3 linked regions of the Homo sapiens genome follow. The protein of the gene in region 3 purifies or fractionates together with the protein of the main gene of each other region. This does not show direct contact. Each region holds a gene or a part of one and is shown on either strand. Other genes may lie near its edges.

Region 1 (3,300 bases), on a different chromosome or scaffold from region 3:
TCACATTGGCAGTAGTGTGGCTTAACTTTTAATGCCATTATCACCAATGAAGCATATCTTTTTGCTGGTTGGTGAGCCAGCCAGACCTGTTATGCCTTCTATTATACTGTCTTCTTCTTAAAAATTGTTTTGAGAAGTCATAATTGTATATACTTACGGGGTACAGTTGCTGTTTTGATATAGGTAGATAATATGGAATGATTAAACCAAAGCTGTTTAACATATTCATCACTTTGTTTGCTTATAATTTTTTGTGGTGAGACACTTGGAATTTACTCTCAGTTATTTTGAATGTAGAATACATTATTGGCTTTAGTTAACCCTGGTGTGCAGTAGGTCTCAAAACTTATTTCTGCTGTCTCTGAAACTTCATTATCTTTGACAAGTAACTCCTCATTCTCTCCCTTGTCCTGTCTCCTACCCCCTAGACTTTGGTGACCATCTACTCTCTATTTCTATGAGTTCAACTTTTTTGGATTCCACAAATGTGAGACTATGCAGTATTTGTGTTTCTGTGCTTGACTTATTTCACTTATGTTGTCCTCTAGGTTTATCCATGCCATAAATGAATAGAATTTTCCTCTTTTTTTAAGGCTGAGTGGTACTCCATTGTGTATATTTATTACATTTTCTTTATCCATGTATCTGTTGATAGACACTTAGGTTGATTCCATATCTTGGCTATTGTGAATAATGCTGCAGTGGACATGGAAGTGCAAATGGACATTCAGATAAGTCTCTTTGGTGATATATATATAATTTTTTCTCTTCAGGTACGTTCTTCAGATGTGTCATGGTCTGATACTCGTAGGACCCTCCGAAAAGATCACCGCTGGGAATCTGGATCCTTATTGGAAAGAGAGGAGAAAGAGAAGCTTTTTAATGAACACATTGAAGCACTTACCAAAAAAAAGAGAGAGCACTTTAGGCAACTTCTGGATGAAACTTCTGCAGTAAGAATCTCTTATTTTTCTCATTTTAATCTGGATGAATCTTGTTAGTAATTTCTTAAAGCAAAGCATTGATATGATTTTTAGTGTCATGGTCTTTAGATTCATTACTGGAATGCATCTTATGACAATTCTCTGATTTTAAAAAATTATGGTATTCTTATTTATTTAGAAATGCCTATTCTTTGCAGTTTTCACATTCATAACTGCTCCCATAGTAATTCAAAATGTCCTTAGCCATGTGGTCAGTGATCCCTCCTAATAATAGATTTAGCAAATTTCTTCTTTTGATCCATTTTCAATTTGGTACTATGGCCTCTTGTTCGGCAGTTTGTACGCTTTGTTATCCAGGTTTTGTTCCTTTTTATTTGCTCTCTTTTTGGTGATGGTTTCTTCAGAAGTTATGATGTTTGCCCATGTAAATACAGGGTTTGCAGGTGATTGTCTTAGGCCACCTTGAAAGTATGGCCATGAAAATAACTCTTGTGGCAAGCCAACAAAAAGAAATTGCATTAACGCTGCTTCCCTGTCCCTAACTAGTCCAGTTACGCTTGGGCATTACAAGAGATCGCAGGTCAGTGTGTAATATTATGTACCTATGTGCTGCAGTTTGACTCCCTAAGTAAAAGTGAGTTGTATTTATGTTTTTTATTCATGTCTTTTCAAAGATTACCTTAACATCCACGTGGAAAGAAGTAAAAAAAATCATTAAGGAAGATCCTCGATGTATTAAGTTCTCCTCCAGTGACAGGGTAAGAGGATTTTGTGTCGAGATTTACTGTCAGTCTATAAATACTTAAATCGGGGCCTAACAGCACTACTATCTTAACCAAAATGAAGTTGATTGTTTTAAGTGAATTACTTTTAAGTGTATGAGAAGTAAATCTGAATTTTAAGTTTATGTATTGTTTCTTGCATGATAAATTAGCAAGACAGCACAATAGAAAGTTTAAAATTTTAGTACTTGGGGTGAAGCTTGTATTTTAGGATCTTAGAAATTTAATGAAGCTGCAGTTTTATTTTAGTCAGGTACCACTAGACAGACATATTTAGGCTGGCAATTGGTACCAAACTATCAAAGCACTTGACTCTTAAGCCAAACAGAGCCCTGTAATGAGATCGCTAGTTCTCATATGCTTCAAGGTCTGAAACAGTGAATGATGTCAAGAAAAGTGTTGTTTACTACAGTCCATTTTATCCCTAGGCCTTTTATTTGTTTTCTTTTACATCATTCCCCTTTCCTGGTTGGTTTCTGTAGGTCTGGGCATCTTTTATAAAAACTCATAAATCTAATATTCTTCCCCCTCAAAGTCTATTGGATTGTAGATGTTTGGACCATAAAATATGCATGACTGGGAAAGAGGGGTAGACCCAGTCTCAGTTTCTAACTTTTCTGACTGTTTAGAATTGATAATAAAGTCTTTTTTAAGTCCAAAGAGTTTATTCATCTTATTACTTTTGGCTTGCCAGAAAGCTAAATGCTCATTACTGTGTAAGTTAAGTATTGAGTGTTAACCTACAGTTGCTGTATCCACAAATTACTCTTTTTGTTCTTGAAGTTAAAAATACAGTGTGCAGGAAGTGAACACTTAATCCTTAATATCCTTATTTTTAAGTGTCCACCTCATGAGGTTGTTGTGAAGATTGAAGTAGATGATCCTCATAAAATGCTCAGCAGTGTAGCACATAGCAAGTTCTCAAGTTTTAGCCACTACTAATTTATGATTCCTCATTCTTTCTATTTGCCGCAAAAATGAGCCTTGCAAATTGTGATTTAATGAATTTTATATATGAACAAAATGTACCCTGTTGCCTTTTTCTTTTGAATTTTAAATTTTATTATGTGACTTACACATTACTGTTTAATAAATAATTGATGTTTATTTTGGAATTAGTGGGTTTTATTTCCATAATCTCAACTTTTTTTTTTTTATTAACAGAAAAAACAAAGAGAATTTGAAGAATATATCAGAGACAAATATATCACAGCCAAAGCTGACTTCAGGACGCTTTTGAAAGAGACCAAATTTATAACATATAGGTGTGTGCAATGAAATGTTTCATATTGGCAGTCATTCTCTTTACTAGTCTTTACTCTAATGGTCAGAGCATTCTTTGCATTCACACACATGTTGACATTATTAATTTTTAGGGATAAGAAGATACCAACTTCTGTCCAAAGTCAAATACAGCCCATATCTACCATACTTTTTTTTTTTTTTAAAGAAAGGGCCCAGATGTCAATTCTTATTTTGTGTTACCCACCCATCCAGTTTTGAATACATACCTTTTTTTTTTTTTTACTTCACCGCTTTTTTTAGGAATACCCTCAACTATATAAGAATTGTAT
Region 2 (2,542 bases), on a different chromosome or scaffold from region 3:
AAGTAATTGTAGTAATTACTCCTGTGCTCTCTAGCAAGTAATGATTCTTAATAGTATGGATGTTAGGTACCTGTGCTCAGAATTCTGTACTCTTCTGGAATCAAAAGTTGGGAGATTTTGGTTGGTTTCTTTGCTTTATGATACTGCTTTTAAAGAGACTTACTGAATAATCACCTGGTGGCTGTATTGCACACCAGGCACTTAAGCACAGGCTGAGAAGTTTAGATCATTTAAAGTTTCTTCCAACTCTAACGTTCTGTTAACTATAAGGACAGTTTGTTTCAGTGTGATGTAAAGGGAAAAGACAGGAAGGTCATCGCACTCTTCCACGAACATCCACAACTGTCAAAGACATACGCCTTACTTACATTGAGATAAAAGAATGTTTGATTTTTCCCTTCCAGGCATTCCAAAGGAGCAGAACACATTTATAATTTTTACTTCCATGTTCAGAAAGGGGAACAACAAACCCCAGAGGTAATCCCAGAAATCTCTAGCATGGATCAATAGCTTCAGTACTCTGTTGGTGGCTTAGTGACCTCATTTACAGTGTTTCATACACTCTGAAACTACCTACAAGCTACCTTTGATAAATGAGTCTCAGAAAGTGCTGGGAGAGAGATTGTTGGCTTCTTAACCTACAAAATGAGGAAGGAAAGATACTATTGTTGAGAAATGTGGAGACCTTTCCTTAGCACTATGACAGAAGCATTCATTGCACATGGATTCTGACTATGCATCCACATGGACTTAATTAAAGGAAACCTGGTCCTGTATAAATCTTAGGAAACAGGTGTATGTTTTAATCATGTCTTTTGGGTATAATTAACAGGAAAATGACATGAAAACAAAACTAAACAATCTGCTAACACCTTTTGACATTTGTTTTTTCATCATTGCTGTTTTTCCAAATTTTGTTAGCCCTTGTCAAGGTTTGCTAACCAATTCTTAATTAATACTTACTTTAAAGAGCCTGTGAAATTATTCTCTCTCAGGCTGTGACCCTCTTGCCATCTTGATACGTCATGAGAACGAAACTCACCAGCCATGTTCATTAAATACTGCATTTAACTAAGAGAAACTTTAAAAATTTGGGATTATAGTTAAGGTCTCCTATCTTTGGAACCTGATTAATTTATCTTTCTTTGGATTAAGCAAAAATTCTAATTTTAGCTATGAAAGAAAAGAAATTCTATTCTTAATTGGAAAAGACCATTAAACTGTTTCCCCAGAGGTTCTGGTTGACATTACTTTCTAGCATGTAGATTTTGCTTTTGCATTTTCATGGTGGAACAGATGGTCACTCACTTCTGCAGAGCCAAAGCCAAGGAAGCAGAACTGTTGAAGTTTTGGCTTAGGAACCACTTGACAAAGATTTGTTTAGAAGCCATTACAGATGGTTAAACAGTACCCCTAATCAGCTGCATTATTTTCTTAAGAAATTAATCTCTACCGTCTTTATAACTATATTCTTTTACTTATTATTTTTTTGAGATGGAGTTTGCTGTGTCACTAAGGCTGCAGCGCAGTGGTGTGATCTTGGCTCACTGCAGCTTTGAACTCGTGTGCTCAAGCAGTTCTCCCCACCTCAGCCTCCCAAGTAGCCAGGACTACAGGCAAGCTAATAAATGCCTGGCTAATTTATCTTTTCTAGAGATGGGGCCTCACTGTGTTGCCCAGGCTGGTCTTGAACTCGTGGCCTCACGTGATCTTCCCACCTGGGCTTTCCAAAGTGCCAGGATTACAGGCGTGAGTCGCCATACCTGGCCCTATTCTTTCTTCTGTTCTTTTCCACAAGACTGTTAACTTCAGTGGCTTTTTTCCTGTTGGAAAACTTTCTACCTTTGATGATTTAATTTTATCAGCTTTTTAACTGTTTTAACTGTTCTTAATTCTGTCTTGTCAACCACTGGTATGTCAAAGGAGGCCTCAAAAGGCTGAAGCGATTTTCCTCAAAAATTACAACTCTTTTTTTTCCTGATATTGTATATAATGTATAATTAACACTGTTCACTATTAAATCTTTGCTTAGCAAAAGAGAACTCTGTGGTGCCTAGAGTATGTCTCATAAAGTATAGTTGTAAGTTTGGCTTATTAATGTAAGTAGTAATAGTCATAACGATTAACACTAGCTGAGCTTCTTCCACATCGGGCTCTGTACAGATACTATTTTTATTTTATTTTTGAGATGGAGTCTCACTCTTTCACCCAGGCTGGAGTGAAGTGGTGTAATCTTGGCTCACTGCAGCCCCCGCCTCCCGGGTTCAAGCAACCCTCCTGCCTCAGCCTCCCGAGTAGCTGGGACTACAGGCATGTGCCACCACGCCCAGCTAATTTTTGTATTTTTAGTAGAGACAGGGTTTCACCAGGTTGGCCAGGCATATTACGAATTCCTGACCTCAGTTGATCTCCTGCCTTGGCCTCACAAAGTGTTGGAATTACAGGTGTGAGCCACTGTGCCCAGCCAAGCACATGTTTAAGAGAGCAGAGGGCTTGGAAATGAAATTATTGCCAACTTTGCCAATAGTCAAGTCAGTGTGGC
Region 3 (3,836 bases):
GTCGATGTGGCTGCAGCAGGGACAGGGGACTGGCTGTGAGCTGAGGTTTGTTATGGTCTGGATTAGGGGTTCATGGGATGCATTATATGATTCTGTCTAGTTTTGCATATGTTCTAAATTCTCCATAATAAAAAGTAAAAAACAAAAATGGAGGTTTGTGAGACTTAGGGTTTGGGGCAGGGGGCCCGGCATCTGGTGGGAGAAACCACTCAGACGAGGCTTGGGGTGAGGGCGGCTGTTGGGCATGTGAGGCCCCAGGGGTTCACAGTTACTGGAGCGTGAAGCTGTTCCAGGCACTTCACGTACCAAGAGCACCGAGGCTCAGGCCCTGCACTCCAGGACACAGACCAGGTTCAGTGGAGAGCCCTGGTGGGACCAGAGCCCAGTGGGAGGGCCCTGAACGGCCTGTGGGGCTTGAAGGAGGGGAACAGAGGCAGCGTCCATTTGTTCTGTAAGGGCCGGGAGACCAGGTGGTAAAGGAGGCCTCAGGCAAAGACAACCCAGTGTCCTGGGATCAGGGAGGCCTGGGGATGGAGCAGCAAGAACATGGTCATCCAGGCTCCCAACGAACCTTTGCTGGAACTGTAGGACACCCACTTTTGCTTTGGAAATCCAACTTCTCTTGTATTCTTCCTGGGTGACCTTGGGCAAGTTACTTAACCTCTCTGATTCTGTTTCTTCCTATGTAAAGTGGGGATAGGAATAGTACCTACCTCATGAGGTTGTTATAGGATTAATAAGAAAATACTCATAAGCATGAAAAAGAGTGCATGTTAGCTATTATTATCCTCTGAGTTTCAGGGAGGAAACTGCCCTCCCTTGGGGCAATGAGGTGATGACAGCAACAACTAAAATGAGAGAACCCCAGTGGGGAGGTGGGAACATCACAGTACTCCCTGCCACCCTTACCAGGTTTGTGATTATTTTAAATAAAACATGCTGTTTCCTGGCCAGGCACAGTGGCTCACATCTGTAATCCCAGAATTTTGGGAGGCCGAGGCAGGAGGATCACCTGAGGCCAGGAGTTCAAGACCAGCCTGAGCAACATGGTGAAACCCCATCTCTACTAAAAATACAAATAATTAGCAGGGCGTGGTGGCAGGCCCTGTAATCCCGGCTACTCAGGAGGCTGAGGCAGGAGAATCGCTTGAACCGGGAGGCAGAGGGTGCAGTGAGCCGAGATCCCACCACCGCACTCTGTCTCTAAAGAATAAAAAAGACATTATTTCCTTACAGCTGTGAGCAGGGGCAGATGCAGAAAAGAAGGTGCTGGGAAAGAGGCCAAGTAAAAGCCACTGGACCTTCTGAAGGAGAAAGTGTGGTTGGCTGGAACCACTAGGCCAAGAAACCAGCCAAGGGTCTGGCTCCGGGTGGCCTTTTTTTTTTTTTTTTTTTTTAAGAGACGGTGTCTCACTATGTTGCCCAGGTTGGTCTTGAACTCCTGGGCTCAAGCAATCCTCCTGCTTCGGCCTCCCAAAGCACTGGAATTAGAGGTGCAAACCACTGCACCAGCCCAGACTGGGCTCCAGAAGCTACCTCTGGGCCCTGTTGCCACCTCTTAGGTGGCTTCTGGAATGGGGGTCTACAGGTGTGAAAGGTCAGCCCCCCTGAGGGAGAGGTGGGGCCCGAGCAGGCTCCTCCCACTGCGGGAGTGCTGGCCTTTCCCCTGCAGGGCTGTGGCTCTGGGACCACTTCCTCTTTCTTCACTCTGAAGCCAAGAGCCGACCTTCTGAGCCCTCAAGAAAGATCAGAACAGATTCATGGGTGATTTAGCCTATCTGTCCCAGGCCAGCGTGGCTGAGTGTGCTGGCTGGAGGCCTCTCTCTCTGCTTCGAGGGTAGCTGAGATCCACCCCGGAAACCGGCAGGATGAAGGGGGCAAGTGAGGAGAAGCTGGCATCTGTGTCCAACCTGGTCACTGTGTTTGAGAATAGCAGGTATGGGCAGCTGGGGTGGGAGGGTCACCATGGTGGGCTGGCAGCCACCCTCCAGCCTTTCTGGCAGCTCTCTCCCTGGGCCCTGCCCCGGACCCTCCTCCTGCAGGGGCAGCCCCGCGTTCCTCGGTCACGGATTCCTTGGAGCATGGGAGAGTGTCGGTGGGACACCAGGAGCCAGGCAGGGGTGAGAGTGCCAGTGTGTGTTGGGAGAGTCCAGACAGGTGTGGTTACGAGCAAGCATGGGCAGACCAAAGCCTGTGTGTGGGCACAGGACCCCACCCAGTGCCTGCCAGCACCTCTCAGAAAAGGTAGCTGATACTCACCAAGAATTTACGCCCTATGATTAGGATAACCATATAATTTATCATTCAGCACACAATTGAAACTGAAAGTAAATGCCAAATAAAATGTGGTGGTTGTGGGGGAGGCATTACAGGTAAAGCTGGGACCGTATGAGGCAAACCAGGATGTACGGGCAGCATCCTGATGGGGTACTCCCTACTCTAAGTTCATGTCCTTACTTATTTAATTTAGTCATCGAACAGCCTAATAGGGGTAGATTCTGTTTCTGTTCCCGTCTTATAGATGAGGAAATGGAGACACAGAGAGGTGAGGATGCCAAGTGCTTTAAGTATCTGGGGCAATGCTGGGGCGTCTGTCTGGAGGGAAAAGGCTGGGCCAGATGCGTGGAGTCATTGGTAGCCCTGGGAGCATGTGTGTTTGTGTGTGTGCGCGTGTGTGTATGTGTGTGTTGTGTGTTATGTGTGGCATCAATCCATTCTGCAGGCATTTCTTAAGCTCAGGACTGTGTTAGGGGCTGTCCCAGGTAGGGTTTTCTGGAAATAGACTCAGACAGAGGTTTGCCTCAGGTGATTTATCAGGGAGAGCTTTTGGGAACAACAGCTGTGGGTGTGAGGGAAGCAGGGCCGGGCAGGGGGAGATGCTGAACTGCAGTGCACCTGCCACAGAGGCCTCAGCCTGTCCCAGGGAGCTCTGGAGCTGGGATGCCTCTCGGTTGTTCCAGCTGAGGAAGAGGGCTGGGTATTTGTATCTCCATGTGGACTGGACAAGAGACTCTGGGTGAGGCAGCTCTCTCTTCCAGAGAGTGATTCCCAGAGAGGGACTCAGCCAATAAATTACCCGGCAGCCCCCAGTACTACCAGTAGCTGGTGGGGATGGTGTGGGGAGGCCTCATTCCTGAAGGAGGGACATGGGTGGCACAGCACAGCATCCTACAGGAACTGTAGAGGATGAAGAAGGGTTTCAGTATTTGGATGCTGAGCTCATCGAATAACTATGATGCAAGGTCATAGACAGTAGATGTCCTAGGAATGGCCCGGATGCTGTATTGAGGGCACTCATGGCAGGCAATGTTTCCTGTAGGCTTCAGGGTGGAGATGGCATAGATGTAGACCTAGAAGTCTTCAACTTCCTGAGCTGGGTGATTCTCCCCTGCCTCTCCCGGGATCTTTGCCAAGCTCGTCCTGTTCAGCACCAAAGACAGCTCTTGGGTGCCGCCTTCCTGGCCCACCACCCCCTTGGGTGTGGGTGGATGGTACCACCTCACTCAACATGCTTGACGTGGACTAGGCACACCTGGGTGGAGCCCCTCAGCATGCTGTGCTCTGCCCAGGCAATAACCCTGGCAGGAGTGGGCAGCCCTTAGACGGGAGTTAGGTCCCAGCAGGCATCAAGAGGGTGAGAGCCACTCCTTACTGAGTGAGGGGACCCATACCAACTGCCTTGGCCTGGGCTTCCTTATGAGGTCTCCAGCACCTCAGCTGATCTGAAACTGAGGGGCAAAGAGGAAACAGAAGCTGGCCAGGGGCCCTAGAACAGAAATGCAGAACCTGAAACCAAATGTAGAACAGAAAGCCTGAGAACCAGCTACGCCCATGAG

The links.
Region 1: the proteins of FGD2 (region 3) and TCERG1 purify together in Homo sapiens (affinity purification with mass spectrometry; one large-scale study listed by BioGRID and IntAct). This does not show direct contact.
Region 2: the proteins of FGD2 (region 3) and HP1BP3 purify together in Homo sapiens (affinity purification with mass spectrometry, with the first as the bait; one large-scale study listed by BioGRID). This does not show direct contact.

What each region holds. Positions count from the first base shown.
Region 1 is NC_000005.10:146,506,255-146,509,554, forward strand, and holds part of TCERG1 (transcription elongation regulator 1), read left to right. Parts: intron 1-773; coding exon 774-953; intron 954-1,378; coding exon of another isoform or gene 1,379-1,486; exon of another isoform or gene 1,487-1,524; intron 1,525-1,618; coding exon 1,619-1,702; intron 1,703-2,890; coding exon 2,891-2,991; intron 2,992-3,300. UniProt on the Homo sapiens protein: Transcription factor that binds RNA polymerase II and inhibits the elongation of transcripts from target promoters. Regulates transcription elongation in a TATA box-dependent manner.
Region 2 is NC_000001.11:20,739,766-20,742,307, reverse strand, and holds the end of HP1BP3 (heterochromatin protein 1-binding protein 3), read left to right. Parts: 3' UTR 1-2,042; downstream 2,043-2,542. UniProt on the Homo sapiens protein: Component of heterochromatin that maintains heterochromatin integrity during G1/S progression and regulates the duration of G1 phase to critically influence cell proliferative capacity.
Region 3 is NC_000006.12:37,003,950-37,007,785, forward strand, and holds the start of FGD2 (FYVE, RhoGEF and PH domain-containing protein 2), read left to right. Parts: upstream 1-1,705; 5' UTR 1,706-1,868; coding exon 1,869-1,936; intron 1,937-3,836. UniProt on the Homo sapiens protein: Activates CDC42, a member of the Ras-like family of Rho- and Rac proteins, by exchanging bound GDP for free GTP. Activates JNK1 via CDC42 but not RAC1.